Linked DNA regions of Homo sapiens: regions 2, 3 and 4 are each linked to region 1. Evidence: fine-mapped expression QTL. A gene starts in region 1. Each other region holds a variant in brackets. All regions are shown on one strand. Distances are between the middles of the regions.

Region 1 (5,149 bases):
ATGGCCCCAAATCTCCAGAGTAGTGATGCTGGCAATTCAGATATGCCAAAGAAAAGCCTTTCTTTAAGTGCTTTCTTTAAGTGAAACAGTGAAAGTATAGGGAAAAAACACATTAGATATAGGGTTTGGTGCTACCCATGGTTTCAGGCATCTGGTTTTAGGCATCAACTTAGGGTCTTGGGACATATCCCATGGTTAAAGTGGGGCTGCTATAAACACGTGTGAATTTTCATAATCAGGCCAGGAGTGGATCACAGCATTTTCCTCTTCTTCCTCTTACATGGAAATAATAAAACTGCTTATTTTCTTAAACAAAAGAGTTTAATTCTTGTGACTTTTTTTATGGTGGGGGGAGGGGGTGGTTCAAGCAATTCTCCTGCCTCAGGCTCCGAGTAGCTGGAATTACAGGCATGTGTCATCACATCCAGCTAATTTTTGCATTTTTTGTACAGATGGGGTTTCACCATGTTGGCCAGGCTGTCTCGAACTCCTGACCTCAAGTGATCCGCCCACCTCACGTGATCCACCAGCCTCAGCCTCCCAAAGTGCTGAGATTACAGGCATAAGCCACGGCGCCCGGCCTCTTGTGACATTTAAATGAATACTTCTGACACAGGATGTTATCACACTGAATTGCTTGTCTGTTATCCTGCCACAGGAACTCTCACCTCCCATGAGACAGACAGATTAGGAATCGGCTTCTTTTTCCCCCACAAAGGCAGGCACAGCCTCCGCCCCCTTCTCATAGGGCGAGGCCAGACAAACTTTAGCCATTGCTCTCATCTTCTCCTAGAGGCTTGGCTCTAAACCAACGCCCTCCCACCCGCTATTGGTAGGGGAGGGGAGGAACTATTGAAAAGTTCCCCCCATCCTCCCTCAAGCATCCCTTCCTGCCTGCACTAGTGACAAAGGATCCCCTTCTGGTGCAACCGAGCCCCTCAAGATTTCAGCACCCCAACATTTTTAGTGATGAAACCATGAAAATTCCGATGAGGCCCTTGCTTATTTGCATATGTTAACTACCCACTTTTTGCCCAATATTCCTTTTTCTAGCAATATAATTATAAACTGCTGATGCACCGTTTCTTTGTCAAGCAGGAGGATATAGCTTCAGAGTCAAGAAAAAAATTTTGCAGAAGGAATGAATGCCTTTAAGGGCATTGTGACCAGCTGCTGACGCCCAGAAGTCTGGTGGTTCAAGATGTAATCTGAGACGAAGAAAGACTTTTCCCCGAGGTTCCCTGAAATTCCCCCTCCCTTACTTCCTGGTCTCATAAAAACTCCCCACTACTTCTTTTTGTTAGGGTGGATTTGAGAGATCTTGACCTCTTGCCTTCTCGCTTTGGCCAAATGGAATAAATCTTCCTCTGTCTCCAAGCATCTGTGTGTCAGTGTTTGGCATCAACAGCACATCAGGTTCCTGAGCCTGAATTTGGGCTTCGACAACTCGGGCTCCCGGGACACATGCAAGAGGGAAACGGAATCACACCGCAGTCTCAGCCACTGCGGATATGACCAACTAGGGCTCTAGTTAGTCACTGTATGGGGGATACAGGGCTTTGTGGGCTACCCTAGTAGCCTGCCCCTGTTGTTACAGTTTGAAGACTGACGTTCCAAGCCAGGGGCTTATAGGCAAGCCTCTGGAACAAAGCCTCTTGTAATAGACTGGACATTGGCCCTATTTGTCCCCAGGCCACAACCCATTTAACTTCATCCTCGGGAGCCCCGATTTCGTCGTTTTCCCTTAAGTCCTTCGTGCTCCTGAACCGTGGGGAAATGTTGCCAGGTTTGGTTTGCTAAGATGTAGGCTGCGCTGGGTCGGCGCCTCTCCCTCCTCCCCAGCTCGCCCCGCGTTCCGAACCTCCCAGCTCCCGGGTCCTCTGCCACTAGCTGTCGTTGGAGGTGCTCCTGAGTCAACAAACTAAATCTCCCCAGCGGGAAAGACTCTCTCCCGGCAGCGCCCAGACCTGGGGAGCTGCAGTCGCCGCACCTTGTCTTCACCACAGCCCAATAGGAGAACCCGCGCAGACCGGGGGGAGGTTTGGGGAAGGCCTGGGCAAAGAAGCGCGGGGGATTCATTACCCGCTGGGTTCTCCTCGGCAGCGCGTCTCCCTCCGGGAGCAGGCAACGGAGCCTCCCAAGTCCAGAGCAGAGAACCTGACCCGGCGGGATCCCGGGCTTATATCAGCTGAGTTCCGTGACACCTCCCGGGGCGGGACATCGCGCAGGAGACAGACAGAGGTACAGCCCAATCGCATCGTTACGTGGAGCCGGAAGCCCACTCTTGCAACTACAACAGTCTTGGTAAACCTTGGGTGGACTGGGGAGAACTGAGGAGGGGAAGCGCTTTTTTGTTGCTTCTCTGTGTTTTCTATTTTATTTTATTTATTTTATTTTTAGATTTTCAGTTCTTATTTCACCCAGGGAAGGAGACCTGGGTATCCACCCCATGTCCTCCAGAGAACTTCCCTGGCCCCGCTCGGAGTCTTCCTGGGACGCCACAGGCTCGGAGAGCGCTCCGCAGGTTTCTCCCCCGGCGCCTCCAAATCTTTCGATTCCTACTCGAATTACTCCGTCAGCTGCTGGAAGAGGGGCAAGGGGTATGGCGAGACGCGTTGGTACATGGGGCACTGGGGGGAAGGGAAAGCCTCCCTCCTTCTCCTAGTAATTCGAGAATGTTGCGTCCGCCTCCTTTCTTTTGCTGGCGCTAGGGGCTCGGACCAGCACCTGCCAGGCATAGGTGTGGCCACTGGGGCGAAACCTGGCAGGCTCTGGAAACAGCGTTTTACTGACAGGAAAGAGAAACTGTTCTTTGTATTCATCACCCACCGCAGACTTCCTCACGCCCGGGTCTTAGGCGGGGCTGTCAGATTTCAGTGTGTTTCTCTTAATTCTAGTACTAAATTTGTACTGGGCGCTGGCGAAGGGCCTGGCTCCGCCACGCGCGGCCCTCTCGAACTGCCCGTGGGTACGGCGCGCGCTGCTGCCCTGTGTGGCCTGTGCGGGGAACCCGAGGGCCGAAGTGGGCCCCGCCGCAGCACAGGGGGACAAGAGAACCAGGAGCGGGCTGCCTGGGGGCAGATTCGAACCCGTGCTCCCAGCGGATAGAAGTAGCACTTGGGGACTCCTAAAATATTCAGCCCAATCCTGATTCCAGCTGCCCTCTCTAGGCACCTTTCCTCTACCCTTCTTCCAGTTTACAATTCTGGTGAGTAGATGTTTCTCTATCTCTTCTCTTCCAACTCCTGCGCCCAGAGCCAGGAGGACTTCTGGAGCCCGCCCAGCAAGACCCTCTCTCTCCCATCTTCTGCTCAAGGGCTCGAGGTCTCAGTGGACAGAGCTGAAGAAAAGCCGTCTATGGAGCCTGCGCCAGGCGCAGACTGGGTCGTCGCAGTCTGGGTCGTCGCAGTCTGGGCCGGGGCGCTGGAAGTCTTACTCACTTCTCAAGAACCCGCAAGGGATCAGGCCTGACCCTTTGCAAGTGACAGAATCCAAAGCTTTGAGCTCATGGGAAAGTGGCTGGAAAGAAGGTCACTGTAGGGCCGCACAGGTCTCTGGCGAGGCTACCCAAGAACATTTAAATCCCTGCCCAGAGAAGAAGAGGCTCCAGCTGTCCTGCACCTTCCTGGGAACTGGCAGTCCCTCCGCGCAGGGGTTCTGCAGCGACCGGCAGCGCGAGGAGACAAGGATGGTGGCCAGTTAACAGAAAATCAAGGCAGCGGGAAAGGTCTGGAAAACACCACCTACTATCACCTCTGGAGCCTGGGATTATGGGATAAGTTTTCGATTTTTAAATGTATTGTCAAATAGCTAAAGTACACGGAAAGTGCGAAATAATAGTAAATTGAACACCTGTGTATTCACCACACAGCTTAAGCAATAACATTAGCAATATTTGGGTACCCAGCTGGTCTCATTCCCTCATTCCACTTGTCCCCTACTCACCTGATAGCCAGTACAATTTTATGAATTTAAAGTTACTAATTCCCATGCAACTGTTTATACTTTTAGTAAATGTGTTTATGTCCCTCATCAACACATGACACTGATTCAACACATGTATATGCGTTTAAGCTGCATGTAAATGGCATCATGTTGGCCAGGTGCAGTTACTCACGACTGTAATTCCAGCACTTTGGAAGGCTGAGAGGGAAGACGGCTTGAGGCCCAGAGTTTGAGACCAGCCTGGGCAACATAGCAAGACCCTATCTCTAAAAAAAAAAAATTGTTTGTTTGTTTGTTTGTTTGTTTGAGACGGAGTCTTGCTGTGTCACTCAGGCTGGAGTGCAGTGGCGCAATCTCGGCTTGCTGCAATGTCGGCCTCCGGGGTTCAAGCAATTCTCCTGCCTTGGCCTCCCAAGTAGCTGGGACTACAGGCACATCCCACCACGCCCAGCTGATTTTTGTATTTTTAGTAGAGACAAGGTTTCACCATATTGGCCATGCTGGTCTACGAACTCTTGACCTCATGATCTGCCTGCCTCGGCTTTCCAAAGTGCTGGAATTACAGGTGTGAGCCCCCGCGCCCAGCCAAAAAAATTGTTTTAAATTAGCTGGGTGTGGTGGTGCCTGCCTATGAAGTCCCAGCTACTCAGGAGGCTGAAGTGGGAAGATGGCTTGAGCCCAGGAGTTGAAGGATGCTATGAGCTCTGATTGTGCCACTGCACCCCTGCATGGGCAATAGAGTGAGACCCTGTCTCTTTAAAAAAAAAAAAAAAAGTATCATATTGTATGTGTTCTGTAGAACTTGCTCCCACACTTTAACATTTTGCTTTAAAGATTTGTTCATGTACTTAGATCATTCCTTTTCACTGCTTTATGAGCTGAATCATTTCTGCTCTTCTTTCCATCCATACCCATTGGTCTCCAAAGTATCCAGGCCTCCCCAAAAGTTCCTGCAGGAGACCTCAGTTCCACTGGCTTTCAGGTCATTATTGTTCCAGCACTACTTCTCCATTTCTGGTTCCAGCCCTTCTCTCCCACATTCTCAAGCTTCTAGAGGGTCATAAGAGAGGAAAAACGCCAAATGCCTTTGATAAAATGTTGCCTTTCCAGTGGTATGCATGTTTGTGTGGAGTGGGAGGGAAGTGAGGGCAGATGTGACTTACTCTCAGCATTAATTCAAGTTTAAAAGTAAAATCTTTAGGTT
Region 2 (5,149 bases), 70 kb after region 1:
TAGAGACAGGATCTTGCTCTGTTACCCAGGCTGGAGTGCAGTAGCACCATCATCATTCACTGCAGCCCTGAATTCCTGGGCTTAAGTGATCCTCCTGCCTCAGCCTCCCAAGTAGCTGGCAGTACAGGTGCACACCACCGTGCCAGGCTAATTTAAAATTTTTTTGTACAGATGGGGTCTCAATATGTTTCCCAAGCTAGTCTTGAATTCCTGGGCTCAAGCAATCCTCCCACCTGGGCCTCCCAAAGCCCTGGGATTACAGGCATGAGCCACCACCCCTGGTCCCATGTCACTTTTCAAAGCTGATCCCCTCAGACCTTTCTCCAGGCTTTCCCAATAGTTTATCTCCTCATTTAGGCCCCCACCATTTCTATCTCCCTGCCCAGTGTGCTGCACTCCAGGACCCTCGGCCCCCAGCCCTAGTTCCAAGCCTTGGCCCACTGCAGCCCCACCTGGCCAGCAGCTCCTTGGTCTGGTCAGTGAGGATGGCACTATCTGCTTTCACCATGCAAGCCAGGGCAGAGATGACACCCGCCTTCAGAAGCCGCTTCACCCGCATGTCTATAAAGTCCTTCTTGTCCTGAGGAGATGAAAAGATGGCAATGTGGGAGGGTCCTGGGTGCCAGGCCAATCGGTATTGGAACCAAAGATGGTGCATTTCTGAATTCTTGGGGTTGGTTGAATAATGGCCTCCAAAGATGTCCATGGCCTGGCCAGGCACAGTGGCTCATGCCTGTAATCCCAGCACTTTGGGAGGCTGAGGCGGGCGGACCACGAGGTTAGGAGATCAAGACCATCCTGGCTAACACGGTAAAACCCTGTCTCTACTGAAAATACAAAAAATGAGCCAGGCGTGGTGGCGGGCACCTGTAGTCCCAGCTGCTCAGGAGGCTGAGGCAGGAGAATGGCATGAACCCGGGGGCAGAGCTTGCAGTGAGCCGAGATCGCACCACTGCACTCCAGCCTGGGCGACACAGCGAGACTCTGTATAAAAAAAAAAAAAAAAATCCATGGCCTAATCTCTGGAACCTGTGAACGTGGGACCTTACATGGCAAAAGGGATTTTGCAGACACGATTAAGTTAAGGATTTTGAGATGAGGGGGTAAGCCTAGATTTCTGTGTGGGCCCAATATAATCACCAGGATCTTTATAAGAGGGAGGCAGGAAGATCAGAGTTAGTACTAGGAGATGTAACAATGGAATGGAAGTGAGGTCAGAGTGGTTCAAGGTCACCAGCCAAAGCATGTAGGTGGCCTCTAGAAGCTGAAAAAGGCAACAAAATGATTCTCCCTTAGAGCCTCCCAAAGAAACCAGCCCTGCTAACACCTTGACTTTAGCCGAGTGAGACTCATTTTAGGACTCTTGACCTCCAGAACTATAAGATTTTTAAAACCGGGCCAGGCGTGGTGGCTCCCGCCTGTAATTCCAGCACTTTGGGAGGCTGAGGTGGGTGGACCACTTGAGCCCAGGAGTTCGAGACCAGCCTGGGCAACATGGCGAAACCCCGTCTCTACTAAAAATACAAAAATTAGCTGGGCATGGTGGAGCGTGTCTATAATCCCAGCTACTCAGGAGGCTGAAGCAGGAGAATTGCTTGAGCCCAAGAGGCGGAGGTTGCAGTGAGCCAAGATTGCACCACTGCACTCCGCCTGGGCGACAGAGGGAGACTCAGTCTCAAAAAAAAAAAAAAAAAAAGTATAAAAATTGCGTTTTAGGCCACAGTGCGTGTGGCAATGTGTTCTAGAAACAATAGGAAACTAAGACACTTCTCCAGATTCCCTCTTCCCAAGCAACTGCCAAGGGGTATACAGCACGCCTTGCTGTCGTGTGTGATTGTCTCTCCTCTCTTCTTCCTTGCCTTACCTAATCCCAAGACAGAGCCTGAGGAGCTGATACCGTAGAAAACCAGTCCCAAAGATTCTCTCATTCACAGAGGAATGAAATAAAAGACGGATAATCCAAAAGACTAAATGATGCGTATATTGTTTTTCTTGGAGAAGGCTGAGGTGGGAGTGGAGGTAGAGAGAGGGTATAGGCAGGAAAGGACACAGTGGATGAAGCCGCCATAACAATGGATTGGGTTTGCTGGAAACCCAAAGTCAACCCAGGGTTAAAGAGTCCCTACAGATAATCCTCAGAGTGAGGAGTGGTGGGGAAGGGGCTGACAACCCTGGGCAAGCCCTGGAAGCCACACTGGAACTTCACAGCCACAGCACATGCTCTGCACCCTTGCCTGGATGAAACATCATGCAGCTTTCAAAAATGATTCAGAGGCCAGGTGTGGTGGCTCATGCCTGGATTCCCAACGCTTTAGGAGGCCGAGGTGGGTGGGTCACTTGAGGTCAGGAGTTTGAGACCAGCCTGACCAATATGGTGAAACCCTGTTTCTACTGAAAACACAAAATTAGCCGGGCATGGTGGTGCATGCCTGGAATTCCAGCTACTTGAGAGACTGAGGCAGGAGAATCACTTGAACCTGGGAGGCAGAGGTTGCATTGAGCCGAGATCTCACCACTGCACTCCAGCCTGGGTGACAGAGCAAGACTCTGTCTCAAAAAATAAATAAATAAAATAAAAATGATTCAGAGAATGAGATGGCAATGTGAAAAACATATTTTTCCAAAATTGGGCACAAAATGATAAATATATTCTAATTATAACTGTGAAAGGAAAAAAGATACATAGAAAAAAAGCCTCTGGTAGGTAACATAACATCAAAATGCCAACAGCAGTCATGTGGAGATGACGTAATCATGAGTGGTTATTTTCTTTTCCCCACATTTTAACTCGTTTTGCAGCATGATTATATTACTTTGATCATTAAAAAAATCTAAATGATTTTATTGGCTGGCAATATCTTGCATATATTCTTAAACAAATCACACACAAATCATATCTTCATGTGCAGGGAATTGTTGGAGAGGGTTCCAGGGGATCTGTGACTTCTGGGCTAATGCTGACCATGCCTCTCCTCTCATGATTCCTACTTAGCACCCATGTCACAAAATCCAGAAATCTGAGAAAATCAAATTGTTATCTGTTGGAGACATGAAATAAAACTGTCTTTTATCCATAAAATCAACAACACAAATTGCAAAGTGTCCATCATGGCTCTGTTTGTTTTCTCAGACTATAAATTGTTGGATTTTTTTCAAAATAGAAAATAAAAACAAAGAAAAAGCATGAGCACCATCTGG[T/G]GGGAAAGTTTACCATTAACATATTCAATGTATGTGTATCTTACCCCCAACCACCCAAACACACACCGTGCCACTCCTGACACCACTCCTTTTGCCGTTCCGCCTCCTTTGGAGGCCTAGTGGCACAGACCAGACCCCTCCCGGGTCGCGCCTGACCCTACCTTGGGGTGTTCCTCGGGCACATGCTGCTTGGAGAACTTGGCGAGCTGGACAAGCTCTGGGATGACCTCCTTGACATCGTAGCTGTTGGTGCAGTTCACCAGGGTGGTGGCCACCGAGTACAGGATGGTCTTGTCACTGGTCTGGAAGGCACAGGGTTGGGGAGAGGGAAAGCAGAAAGGAAACTTTAGGACAAACCTCTGCTTCCAGGATGCTCCCTCACGTGGCCGGCAGGTTGGTGTCGGAGGAGTGCAGCTGGTAGGGCCCATTCTGAGGAAAGACAGCAGCGCAGGAGAGGAACGGTTCTCCCCATAAAGGCAGGCAGCAGTGTCTCCTGCACCCTCCACAGTAGCTCTGACAGTATGAATAGGAGCTGTCCCACAAAGATCCTCGCTTTGCGCCTCTTCCACAAGCCCAGTCTAACACTTTCCCATCCAACTGGAGATGGGGTGGGAGCTGGACATTTTCCGGTCCTGGTGAAAATCTCTCCCATGCTTCCTCCATTTACTGGTAGAAAAGGGCCAGGGAGTTGGCCCAGCAGATGAGGAAAGGAGTCTGGGGGGGCCTGGGAGGGAGGGCAGGTTCCCAGAAAGGCCAGGCACAGCCTCTTTTATTTATTTATTTTCTTGAGGCAAGGTCTCTCTCTGTCACCCAGGCTGGAGTGCAGAGCTGGAATTCTAGCTCACTGCAGCCTCGATCTCCCAAGGCTCAAGCAATCCTCCCACCTCAGCCTCCCGAGTAGCTGGGATTACAGGTATGTGCCACCACGCCCAGCTAATTTTTGTATTTTTTGTAGAGTTGGGGTTTCACCATGTTGCCTAGGCTGGTCCTGAACCCCAGAGCTCAAGCCATCCGCCCGCCTCAGCCTCCTGAAGTGCTGGAATTACAGGCACGTGCTACGATGCCCTGCTTTTTTTTTTTTTTTTTTTTTTTTTAGCTGCCTCAGGTCCTTCAAGACCTCACCTCCTGAGGGCCCCAGGAAAACAAACTGCCCTCCTGTGCATCTTCCCATCTCTGGAAGGCATTGGGAGTCGGGAGTCCATTTTACAATCAGGTAAAATGAGGGCCAGAAAGGGGGAAATAACCAATCATGTTTATACAGGGGTAAGGAGTAGAGCCAGGAGGAAGACTGGGATCCATTCCCTGTGGGTCTGGACCCAGCAGACCTTTCCTGAGGTTTGTGGTCGGGCCAGACTCCCCGACACCTGCCTTGGCCAGCTCAAACATGGCCTGCAGGGCAGGGACGTCCTGGACAAAGTCGTCCTTCACATCAGCGTCCAGCGTGAGGTAGGCCAGGCCCTCCACTGCCCAGCGTCGGGTCCGAGTGTCTATGGACATATTGCACAGCCACCTGGAAGTGAGGAGGGAGCACACATGGGAAGGGGCCCAGGGCTAGGTCAAGAGGGTGAAGCGATTTCAGGGTGGTGAACCAGGGGTGAGGTCCCTTTCACACTCCACTAGAGCACACCCCAGAGACTCTTGCCCGGAAGGCGCATGAGGAGATGGAGGGCCTGGGAAACACAGCCCCCTTACTTGCGACACTGTTTGGCCAGTTTTTCTGTCGACCCTTCCGCAAACTGCCTGAGACCGTAGTCTGTGCCACCTGCAGAGCCGAGCTTACAGAGTCCCTGAGGAGGAGAGGAGACAGCAGACACATGCAGGATCAGAGACACCAAGGCTTGGGGATGAAGCCTTGCTCAAACAGGTTTCTATGGCCAGAACACTTCGCCCCTCTTTCTTTGCTTGGATCCACCTCTGTGCAGACTGTAAAACTCAGCTCAGGTGTCACCTC
Region 3 (5,149 bases), 23 kb before region 1:
GACAGGATTTCACCACGTTGGCCAGGCTGGACTTGAACTCCTGACCTCAGGTGATCCACCTGCCTTGGCCTACCAAAATGCTGAGATTACAGGCGTGATCCACTGCGCCCAACTTATGGTGAGTTGTCTTTTGTCCCCTGAGTTATATATCCTTTCAGGATGGGTTCTTCATCTGGCTCATGTCATATTTCTTTTCTACATTTTTCCCCATTGTCTTTCGCCTAATGATCAGAACACTTATCTTTCTAATGCTTAATCAGGGCAGCTGGGTAGAGTCTTTCTTTTTACCTTAAGATAGTATAGAAGGGCTCTCTTTGACAACTTTCTTAGATGAAGTAGACTAGTTTGGCTTCTTCTCCAGTGTATAGCTGGAGGCCTGGGTGGTGTCTTCCATCTACTTTTGTGTAGCCTGATATGATCTGGTGTGAGATGAGGCCCTCGCTGTTAACCTGGTTTCTACTCTTTATTGTTGCCTAGGAACTTCCATTAAATCCACTGAATTCCATGAAGGAGGCAAAGCATCCAGGAATAAGACACAGCCCCCTTCATTGAATTCATGTGAAATCCTGGAAAATCCCTCCTGTGTCCACGGAGAGTCCCTGGGGACAATCAGGAGTTTCTGTGCTCAAGGGTCTCCCTGGCATTTCCCTGAGCTGCCTGCTCAATACCTCCGCCACCACCCTTCAAACTGGCCATATTAACAAGAATTCTGGTTTTCTTTTCTTTATGTGACATCTATTCATGACTACACTGGGCAGATGAGATAGTAGCTATGCCTTTATATAAAACTTTTAAATTCTTTTTTTTTGTTTTATTTATTTAATTTTTGGAGACAGGGTCTTGTTCTGTCACCCAGACTGGAGTGCACTGGTATGATCATAGCTCACTGTAACCTCAGACTTCTGAGGTCAAGTGATCGTCCTGCCTCAGCCTTCTGAGTAGCTAGGACTCCAGGTGTGCATCACCATTCCCAGCTAATTTTATTTATTTATTTATTTGTTTGTTTGTTTGTTTGTTTTTGTAGAGACAGGGTCTCACTATATTGCTCAAGCTGGTCTTGAACTCCTGGGCTCAAACAATCCTCCCACCTTGGCCTCCTAAAGTCCTGGGATCACAAGCATGAGCCACCATGCCCAACCTTTTCTAGTTTTTAAATTTTCATACATATCTATTAGATGTTTATAGTGTAAGGTTGAACTCCATTCTTTGCTTCTCTGTTGCTGGTAAATTTTTGGGTATATTTTTACTAATTTTGCACATTCTTTTACATATTGGTAAAGGAACAGTCTGTGATCTGGATTTATTCAGATCCTTATTCAGAATTACCAATTGTTTTATTAATCATTTTATCTTAAATGTGTCTCTACTTACTAGTGATTTGCAGTATATTCCAAGTTAGTTGTAAAAACATTTCACAATAGACTAATTTCTTGCTTTCCTGTGAAATTGTCTCAAATTTAAAAAGTAAAGTTCTTAATATTGTAAGTAGCTGCCAGAAATAAACCAATTCTAGCTTCAAGTTCATACTTCTTACAATGAGAATTTTAAATTTCTTTATTCTTGGGAAATAGCAGGGCCTTGCTGTTTTTAATAGTGAATTAACTCTGAATTTTTTAGTTTCTGTCTCTCAGAAAAGATGGATTTGTTTGGCTTTAAATATTGAGAGAGTTTCTAGAGACCCACAGGAAATGAGAAATTTGCACTTTTGTAGCAATGGCTTTTGAAAGACTAGCTAACATCCTGAAGACTCAGCAGAAGAAAGATATTAAACTGACTTTGTCGTTTTGTTGATTATTAAATTAAATGGAAAAACAAAATGTAACCTTTGAGTCCAATAGACTCATCCCCCTAGGCTCTCTATCATCTTCAAATCAATCAGTAAAACACAGTGTGCCTCCCTGGGGGACTGTGGCAGTCTTACCTTCATGTAGTAACCTAAGACGCTCCATAAGAATAAAAAATCAGAGCTAAGGAACAGATTCCACATAACCAAAAGGCTCACAAAAAGCATTTTAAAATATAGTGATCAAAAACACTAATGTCGTTAAAAGAAAAAGCAGAAAATAATAAAGTAATATAATGTGGTCTTGCAAAAAACAGTCTGTGATCTTACATTTCAAAACATGTCTTGCCCGTTCCCGGCACCTACAAGGCCAGATGAGCTACCTGCTCCATCCTTCACATTCTCGCTGCACGTCCCATTCAAGCTCTTCTGCAAGTGGCCATGTTAAAAATTTATAAAAATATCCGAGTCTGCCTGGCACGCTCAGAGATTCTCATGACAAGTTCTTCCCTCACTGAGCACTTCCCTGACCACCCAAAATAATCACCCCCTCCATCTACCTACACACATGTGCACGTGCGCGCGCGCACACACACACACACACACACACACACACACACACATCTCTGAGTCTCACGGTCCTCTAATTACTGATATCCCTTTTTACCATGGGAAATTCCTTGTCTATCTGTGTATTTGTCAGTGGTCTGTCTCTGCCCTAAAGGAGGAATCTTACATCGATTCGTTCTCAATCCCCAGC[A/G]CCTAGAAAAGTATGTGACTTAATAAGTGAGTGTGTGCTTACATGTTTGGATTAAATGGTTTCACAGTTAATTAGAGATGAGAACCACTTAATTGTTTCTTAGGCTTGGGTTTCCTGTCACACAGAAGCCTTCAGAATATACAGATGTCTTTTTGCCCTAGAAGCCAAACAGAGCAGAAGATTGTAGGCCCCAGCCGGTGGGGCTACTCCTGGATTGATTCCAAACACGATATTTCTTTCCAGGCCTGAAAATCGACAGACACTGTCCAACACAATGTGATCGGTTAGAACATCCGACGCATCACCGATCTGTAGTAACAGATCAGACTCCTCATGGAGCTGAGACAGTTTTCTCTTCCTCATTGCTGTTAGAAGCCTGTCTTTATATTTTTCCACTTCACTTGCTTTGGTGAAAAGCACAGCAATATCCTTCGGAGAATAACCATTCCGCAAGAGAAAACGGCATTTATTCGCTACATAGATCAGTATCTCCTCCAAGTTCAAGTCTTCAATAATCTCTAAGTTGCCTGGGACACCTTGAGCCCATTTAGGTTCATAGAGCATCACCAGGGACCCAGGGGGGAGGTTAGGTGGAGGATTTTGTCGGGCTTCCTGCATTACTTGTTGTAGGTAATTAGCTATTGGACCTGCATTGCGGACCACTCTGTTGATCTCTTCTCTTGGATACTGGTCTGAGGGAGGGGGGAGGCCACTGCAACTCAAGTGATAGGTCTGAAAGTAGTCCAGAAAGATCCAGAGAACTCCTGGGCCATCCCTTGCTGTCTGAGTGATGAACTTTGCTTTCCCATACCAGTCCCCATCTTCAGTACGGAAATTCTGAGCGTCATCAATGATAATGTGCTGGATGTGTTCAAAGTTGTTTTTCATGAAGGTTTTCCGGGTCACTGGCTGGCAGATGTTTTTCTTGCTGAAACTGTAAGAAACAGAGTCAGGTTTTTCCCCAATGAAACAAAGAAAGCAGATTCTACTCTTAAACCCCTCTGGTCATGGTAAATACAATATGAATTTTAGCAAGTAAACTGAAAGCCACACCAGCCACAGTCACTCAAGAAAATAAAGTGAACACAGACAAGCAGCATACCTCACCAACTTCTTCAGGGGCTGGTTTTCACAGATGTAGAGAATGTTAGCCGGTTCACAGTGAAACACATTCCTGATCTTCTCCATGATCCTAAGAGCCAAGATAGTCTTCCCTGATCCAGGTAAGCCATGAACAAACAACTCTCTGGTCTTGCGAAGGTTCTTTGAAAGCAACTCATACTGTTTATTTGTCAGTAGGTTCAAAACCTCAGAGCCCAGCTCTTCACTTAAGAAGGATTTGAACCCAAGCAAGACTATCACGAGGGACTGTAACAGGGCTTCCATGTGCTGGGGGGTCATGAAGTTATAGGATTCAGGGTAAATTTGTAAATACGAACTGTAAACGCTCTGTGCTTTTCTATCAGAATTCAGCACACAGACCAAGGGGGTGATGCATAACCTCCCAGTGTAGCCGCCTTTGTTCACCAGCTTCTGCTTCAAAGAATAGGCAACTATCATAGAATAGCCCTTGCACCCCGCATCCCACTTGCTGAAGATGGTGTAGAGAATAGGGGTGTTGTTCTGGGAAATTAGAAGAGCATCACAGATGACTCCCTGCTTCTCTTGCAGACCTAAATCCACAGCCCAGCTTTGAGAAAAAATCAATATTCCTTGAGAGAAAGGGCGCATTTCTGTATTTATTAAGTCTCTGAGTCCTTTATGTTGTGAGAAGAGTTCCTTGTAGAGGCTTTCTGGAGTATATACCACTCTGTCTGAAAATACTAGACAGGGAAAGGATGGGAAGAAATTAGAAAAGCCTCAGACAAGCTAGTAATCATCATTATACGTAGAAGAATTAATCAACACTGGGACTCTACTATGTATCTACAATAGGTTATACATTAGTAATAAAAAGATAAACAATTCTTATTTTGATGGGGCGCTAATTAGCTGGTATAAACAGACAATAATAATTATGGTAAAAAGTGGTCAATACAACTAGAGAGAAGGACAGAAAGTATTATGTGAATACCAAGGAAAGGTACAATTTAGGAAAGAAGAAAATATGAAAGTCTTTATGAAGAAGGAAACACCTGAGCTGATTCTTTTTTTTCTTTTTTCTTTTTCTTTCTTCTTCTTTTTTTTTTTTTTTGAGATGGAGTCTTGCTCTGTCGCACCAGTGGTGCGATCTCGGCTCACTGCAACTTCTGTCTCCTGGGTTCAAGTGATTCTCCTGCCTCAGCCTCCCAAGTAGCTGGGACCAAAGGCGTGTGCCACCAAGCCTGGCTAATTTTTGTATTTTTAGTAGAGCTGGGGTTTCACCATGTTGGCCAGGCTGGTCTCAAACTCCTGGGCTCAAGTGATCTGCCCGCCTGGGCCTCCCAAAGTGCTGGGATCACAGGCGTGCGTCACCGCACCCAGCCCTGAGCTGATTATTAAAGGATGACTTGGAGTTAGTGAGTTGAAGAGGAGAATAGAGACATGGTCAAAAGAGGGCACATGACTAACACTCAGGGACAAGAAACAGCAAGGAAGCCGGGCGTGGTGGCTCATGCCTGTAATCC
Region 4 (5,149 bases), 79 kb after region 1:
TGATCCTCCTACCTCAGCTTCCCAAGTAGCTGAGACTACAGGGGTGTGCCACCACACTTGACTCATTTTTAATTTTTTTTTTTTTTTTTTTTTTTTTAGAGATGAGGGTCTCTCTACATTGCCTGGGTTGGTCTCAAACTCCTGGTCTCAGGCAATTCTCCCACATCGGCCTCCCAAAATGCTAGGATTACAGGCATGAGCCACCACACCTGGCCAGCAGCTTTTTGCCTTTCTTTTTTCTTTTTGAGATGGAGACTTGCTCTGTCACCCAGGCTGGAGTGCAGTGGTGCGATCTTGGCTCACTACAACCTCTACCTCCTGGGTTCAAGCGATTCTTCTGCCTCAGCCTCCCTAGTAGCTGAGATTACAGGCATGTGCCACCATACTCGGCTAATTTTTGGTATTTTTAGTAGAGATGGGGTTTCACCATGTTGGTCAGGCTGGTCTTGAACTCCTGACCTCAGGTGATCCGCGCTCCTCGGCATCCCAAAGTGCTGGGATTACAGGCGTGAGCCACTGTGCCCAGCCAGCTTTTTGCATTTTAAAGGATTTTTAAAAATATGTTGACAGAGACTTATCTGTCCCACAAATACTAAAATATTTACTCTCTGGCCCTTCATAGAAAAAGTTTGTTGACCCCTGGAATATAGAAAGGAAAAGCAGAGTAAAGGCAACGTCTTCACCCACCTAAGACTCACCTGGAGTGCTTTTAAGCATGCAGCTTCCTGAGCCACACCCCAAACTACCGAGTCAAGAGGGGATGTCTCAGAAATCTGAATAATTTACAAGTCTGGGAATCACTGCAATAAAGAATTAAAAGGTCATGCACTGGAGTCACACTGATGCTGGAGCACCAGTGAGGAGACTCAGGAACTGCAGCTGCTGAGGGTCCTAACCCCTGTCTAGCTCTGCAAAGCCACATGAGTCTTAGTCTTGAAAGAACCGGGCCTCCCTCCTTGACAAGCTGACATGTGTTCCTTTCAACCACAGAAGCCAGTGGTAGGTATAAAATATGTCCATGGCTGGGCAAGGTAGTTGATGCCTGTAATCCCGGCACTTTGGGAGGCAGAGGCAGGAAGATTGCTTGAGCTTGGGAGTTCAATACCAGCCTGGGAAACATAGCAAAACAAAAAATACAAAAATTAGCCAGGCGTGGTAGTGCACACTTATAGTCTCAGCTACTTGGGAGGCTGAGGCAGAGGCAGGAGGATCGCTTGAGCCCAGCAGGCTGAGGCTGCAGTGAGTCATGATCATGCCACTGCACTCCAGCCCGGGTGACAGAAAAAAAAAAAAATTAGCCCAGCATGGTGGCAAGTGCCTGTAGTCCCAGCTACCCTGGGAGGCTGAGGTAGGAGGATTACATGAGCCCAAAAGTTCGAGGCTGCAGTGAGCTATGATTGTGTCACTGCACTCCAGCGTGGGGAACAGAGTGAGACTCTGTCTCAAAAAATAAATAAAATAAAATATGTCCAAAAATATGTTGACACCCCTGCCTTCAAAAGCTGAAACCTAATTTCTTCCCCTTAAACATAGGTCAAACTTACTGACTTGCTTCTAACGAATAGAATGTGGCGGAAGTGATGACATGTGTCTTCTGAGGCTAGATAGAGAAGACATCTCCCTGCTGCCTTGCTCTGTCTTGGCTCTCTTACTGTGGCATGCCAGCGGCATGCAGTGAAGACGCTTCAGCAGGCTGCAGAGAGGTCTGCAGGGAGAGGAACCAAGGCCTCCCACCAACAGCCAGCACCAGTGTGCCAGCTGTGTGAGTCCACCATCTTGGAAGCATTTTCCAGCCCCAGTCAAGCCTCCAGATGGCTGCAGCCCCAGCCAGCATATGACTGTAACTTCATGAAAGACCATAAGCCAGAGCCACCCAGCCAAACCACTCCCAAATTTCTGTTCTGGTGTGAGATAATAAAACACTATTGTTTGAGCTGCTAAATTTTGAGATAATTTGTTACACAGCCATAGATAACCAAGACAGAGCCTGACCCTGTGAGGCCTCCAGGAAACTTACGTGATATATTCCTCACAGATCTTGCGGAAGTGATCGCGCTCCGGGTCACAGCGCAGGTCATCATAGAGCTTGTTGATGAGGATAGAGGCCAGCATGCGGGTGTTGTCAGTCAGGGGCAGGCAGGATGGCAGATCTGGAACCTGCCCCACAACCTTCAGGATCTTCCTCAGACCTGCAGGGTAGACAGTGGCAAGCCTAAGATTCCTGCTGGGCTCCATCCTCACACACACCCCTCACTCAGTGACTTGTTATCATCAGCTTCTCTCCAGCCCTGTCTGTAGAAAACATGTGGTTCATCCAGAATGAAAGGGCCTAGAATGGGGTCAAAGGACCCAGGTTATACACCTGACACTGCCCCCAGCTTGACCAATTCACCTCCCTCTAGGGGCCTCTATTTTCATGTGTACAAAATCAGGACTAGTCGATCTCAGAGGACTCTACCAGTGCTGACATTCCATGGGCTGATGTATAGTCTTCTCCAAATACTATTTCATATTCCCTTCCTCAAGCCTCAGCTTCTTCATTTGTAAAATGGGAATAATACTACCTACCTCATAAAGTTTGAGGGCTCAATGAGATAATGTATGGAAACTCTACTATCAATCCAGACACACTACTAT[G/C]ACTCAATAAATGTTTATTATTGAGTGTGTATTTATTAAGTATTTATTTAGTAAATGCCATATTTACATTTATGATGATGATGATGATGTCTTCTCATCTCTTCTGTTGAAAAATCTTCAATGGCTTCCTATTACCGTTGGGCAAATTCAACAGTCATGTCTTTGTTAAATAAATGAGCACCTTTGGGGTACTGGCTACCAAAATAACAGATACAACCCTGACCTCCAAAAGCTCACAATACAATAGGGAAAACTGACATATGAAGATTGCAATGAGATGTGATAAGTATAGAAGGGTAACACTGAAGATGAGGTGATTCACTTCAACAAAATAAGATCTGCAATTTATTCTGAGCACTTACTACGTGCCAAGAGCTTTATACACATTCACTTCATCTAATCCTAACAATAACCCTGCTGGTTAGGAATCATTATTTCCATCTTTCAGAGGAGAAAAACAAGACTTAGAGAAGTCAAGTAAGTTGCCCAGGACAAGTCAAGTAAGTTGCCCAGTGACATAGCAAGGACACGCTCCCAATCCCGTCTGATTTCAAAGCCTGTGATGTTAGCTGTTATACTATGTTGCCTCTGGGGCAACAGAGAGATGGATTTCGGAGCCAGGTTTTAGAGGTGGCTTGGAGCTGGTCAGACCTTGTGTAGTACAGGGAAGTGGGAGAAAGAACATTCCAGGTAAAAGCTGGGAGGCATGAAACTCTAGATGTTAGGAGGGAATTAAAAGTGCCTGGAACCAGCCTGGCCAACATGGCAAAACCCCGCCTCTACTAAAAATACAAAAAAATTAGCTGGGCATGGTGGCGGGCACCTGTAATCCCAGCTGCTTGGGAGACTGAGGCAGGAGAACTCAGGAGGTACAGGTTTCAGTGAGCCAAGATCACGCCATTGCACTCCAGCCAGGGCTACAAGGGCAAAACTCTGTCTCAAAAAAAAAAAGTGCCTGGAAGTGGCTTGGTGGCTCATGCCTGTAATTCCAGCACTTTGGTTAGGCCGAGGTGGGAGGACCACTTGAGCCCAGGAGTTTGAGACCAGCCCGGGCAACAGACCCATCTTCCCATATGAAAGAAAAAGAAAAAGAAAGCGCCTGGCAGTAAATTTTGTGCTATGTACATTTTACCACTTAAAGGAAAACTTCTGTTTCCTCCCTAAACTACTCCTACTCTCAGAGCTTACTTCTGACACTGGATGGGTGTCCTACAATTCAACGCTGACACTAACCACTTGGGGTTAGCACAGACTCCACAGGTTAAGGGCTCAATCCCACAAGACTACCCTCCTTCGGATGCCAGCCTCAAGTCCAAGTTGCCACCTGTGCTTCTGACTGGCCAACTATAAATCAGAGATTCCCATGACCCTCTCCCTCAGGTTTGATAATTTGCTAGAATGGCTCACAGAACTCAGAAAACCAGTTTAGTTACTAGATTACCAATTTATTATTTAAACAACAACAACAACAAAAACAGAAACTCAGGAACAGCCAGATGGAAGAGATGCAGAGGGCAAGGTATTGGCAAGGGGCGTGGCACTTCCATGCCCTCTCCAGGTAGCCATCCCTCCAGCACCTCCATGTGTTCACCAAATTGGGAGCACTTTAAGCCCCTTTGGCTAGGGATTTTTTTTAAATAGAGGCTTCATTATGTAGGCACGGTTGATTAAATCATTAGTTATTAGTGATGAATCCCACCTCCAGCCCCTCTCCCCTTCCTGGAGGTAAGGGGTGGGGGGCCGAAAGTTCCAATCCTGTAATTGCATGGTTGTTTCCCCTGGCAACCAGCCCCCATTCTGACATTCTGAGGTTATCTAGGGGATCCCAGCCACCAGTTATTACATGAGCATACAAAAAGATACTTATCACTTCAGAGGTTAGCTGTGTGCCAGGAAACAGCAGCAGAGACCAAATATGTGTATTTCTTATTATGCAACAAGCATGCATTTAAAAAGTGCTCAGTAGGGCTGGGGAGTAACAGGAAGTGCCTGATGAGCCAACACAGACTCCCCAGCCTGGGTCCTAAAAGCATCCCTCAAATGCCCCTCTCCAATCTCATCTCCCGGTCTCCCCTTCCATTCTTGCCCATGCCTTGAGCATCTCATTTCTCTTCTGTTCAAACACTCTAGACCTTCCTCCTGTCTATCTTTGCCCCTTCTCTCACCCAAAAGCTCACTTCGGGTTTGACATCCTGACAGCTCCCTTACCGTGCCTCCCAGCCCAGTTTGCACAACACATAACACCTCAACATTGCAGCTTTGTATTCGAATATCTGAATTTTTAAATCCACATTATTTTTACCCAAGTGCTGTCCATGTTGGTGCCCTTTACAAAAAGAACAGAATAAAAAATACTGCTCTCTACCTGTCCCATCCCATAACACGTGGATGAGCCTAGATCCTGGTGCTGAGAGAGAAGATCTGTTGTTAACGCTCACGTTTCATGACATATGTGGAGAAGACCAGAATGAGGCAGGGAGGAAGTGGGGTTTGGGCATTTAGCAGTAGGGTA

What was found.
Region 2: its variant is fine-mapped to the expression of SLFN5 in whole blood (INTERVAL, PIP 0.95).
Region 3: its variant is fine-mapped to the expression of SLFN5 in whole blood (TOPMed, PIP above 0.99).
Region 4: its variant is fine-mapped to the expression of SLFN5 in spinal cord (GTEx, PIP above 0.99).

What each region holds. Positions count from the first base shown.
Region 1 is chr17:35,240,077-35,245,225 of GRCh38, reverse strand. SLFN5 (schlafen family member 5) reads right to left here and starts at 2,154. Exons shown (of 5, transcript NM_144975.4): 1 at 2,083-2,154. It overlaps LOC105371932, which reads left to right and starts at 1,075. Exons shown (of 4, transcript XM_047437262.1): 1 at 1,075-1,115; 2 at 2,007-2,304; 3 at 2,401-2,600; 4 at 3,256-5,149. The coding sequence starts at 1,075. The coding sequence ends at 3,703. RefSeq lists enhancers at 1,111-1,739, 1,713-1,822, 2,343-2,402.
Region 2 is chr17:35,169,673-35,174,821 of GRCh38, reverse strand. UNC45B (unc-45 myosin chaperone B) reads right to left here. Exons shown (of 20, transcript NM_001267052.2): 11 at 4,891-4,985; 12 at 4,567-4,708; 13 at 3,360-3,500; 14 at 453-580. Among named protein-coding and RNA genes, the nearest start is that of SLC35G3, 22 kb to the left of the region's middle. The variant T/G (reference allele first, on the strand shown) is at 3,199.
Region 3 is chr17:35,263,400-35,268,548 of GRCh38, reverse strand. SLFN5 (schlafen family member 5) reads right to left here. Exons shown (of 5, transcript NM_144975.4): 4 at 3,646-4,366; 5 at 1-3,477. The coding sequence ends at 2,661. Among named protein-coding and RNA genes, the nearest start is that of SLFN5, 23 kb to the right of the region's middle. The variant A/G (reference allele first, on the strand shown) is at 2,544.
Region 4 is chr17:35,161,035-35,166,183 of GRCh38, reverse strand. UNC45B (unc-45 myosin chaperone B) reads right to left here. Exons shown (of 20, transcript NM_001267052.2): 9 at 2,018-2,189. Among named protein-coding and RNA genes, the nearest start is that of UNC45B, 16 kb to the right of the region's middle. The variant G/C (reference allele first, on the strand shown) is at 2,638.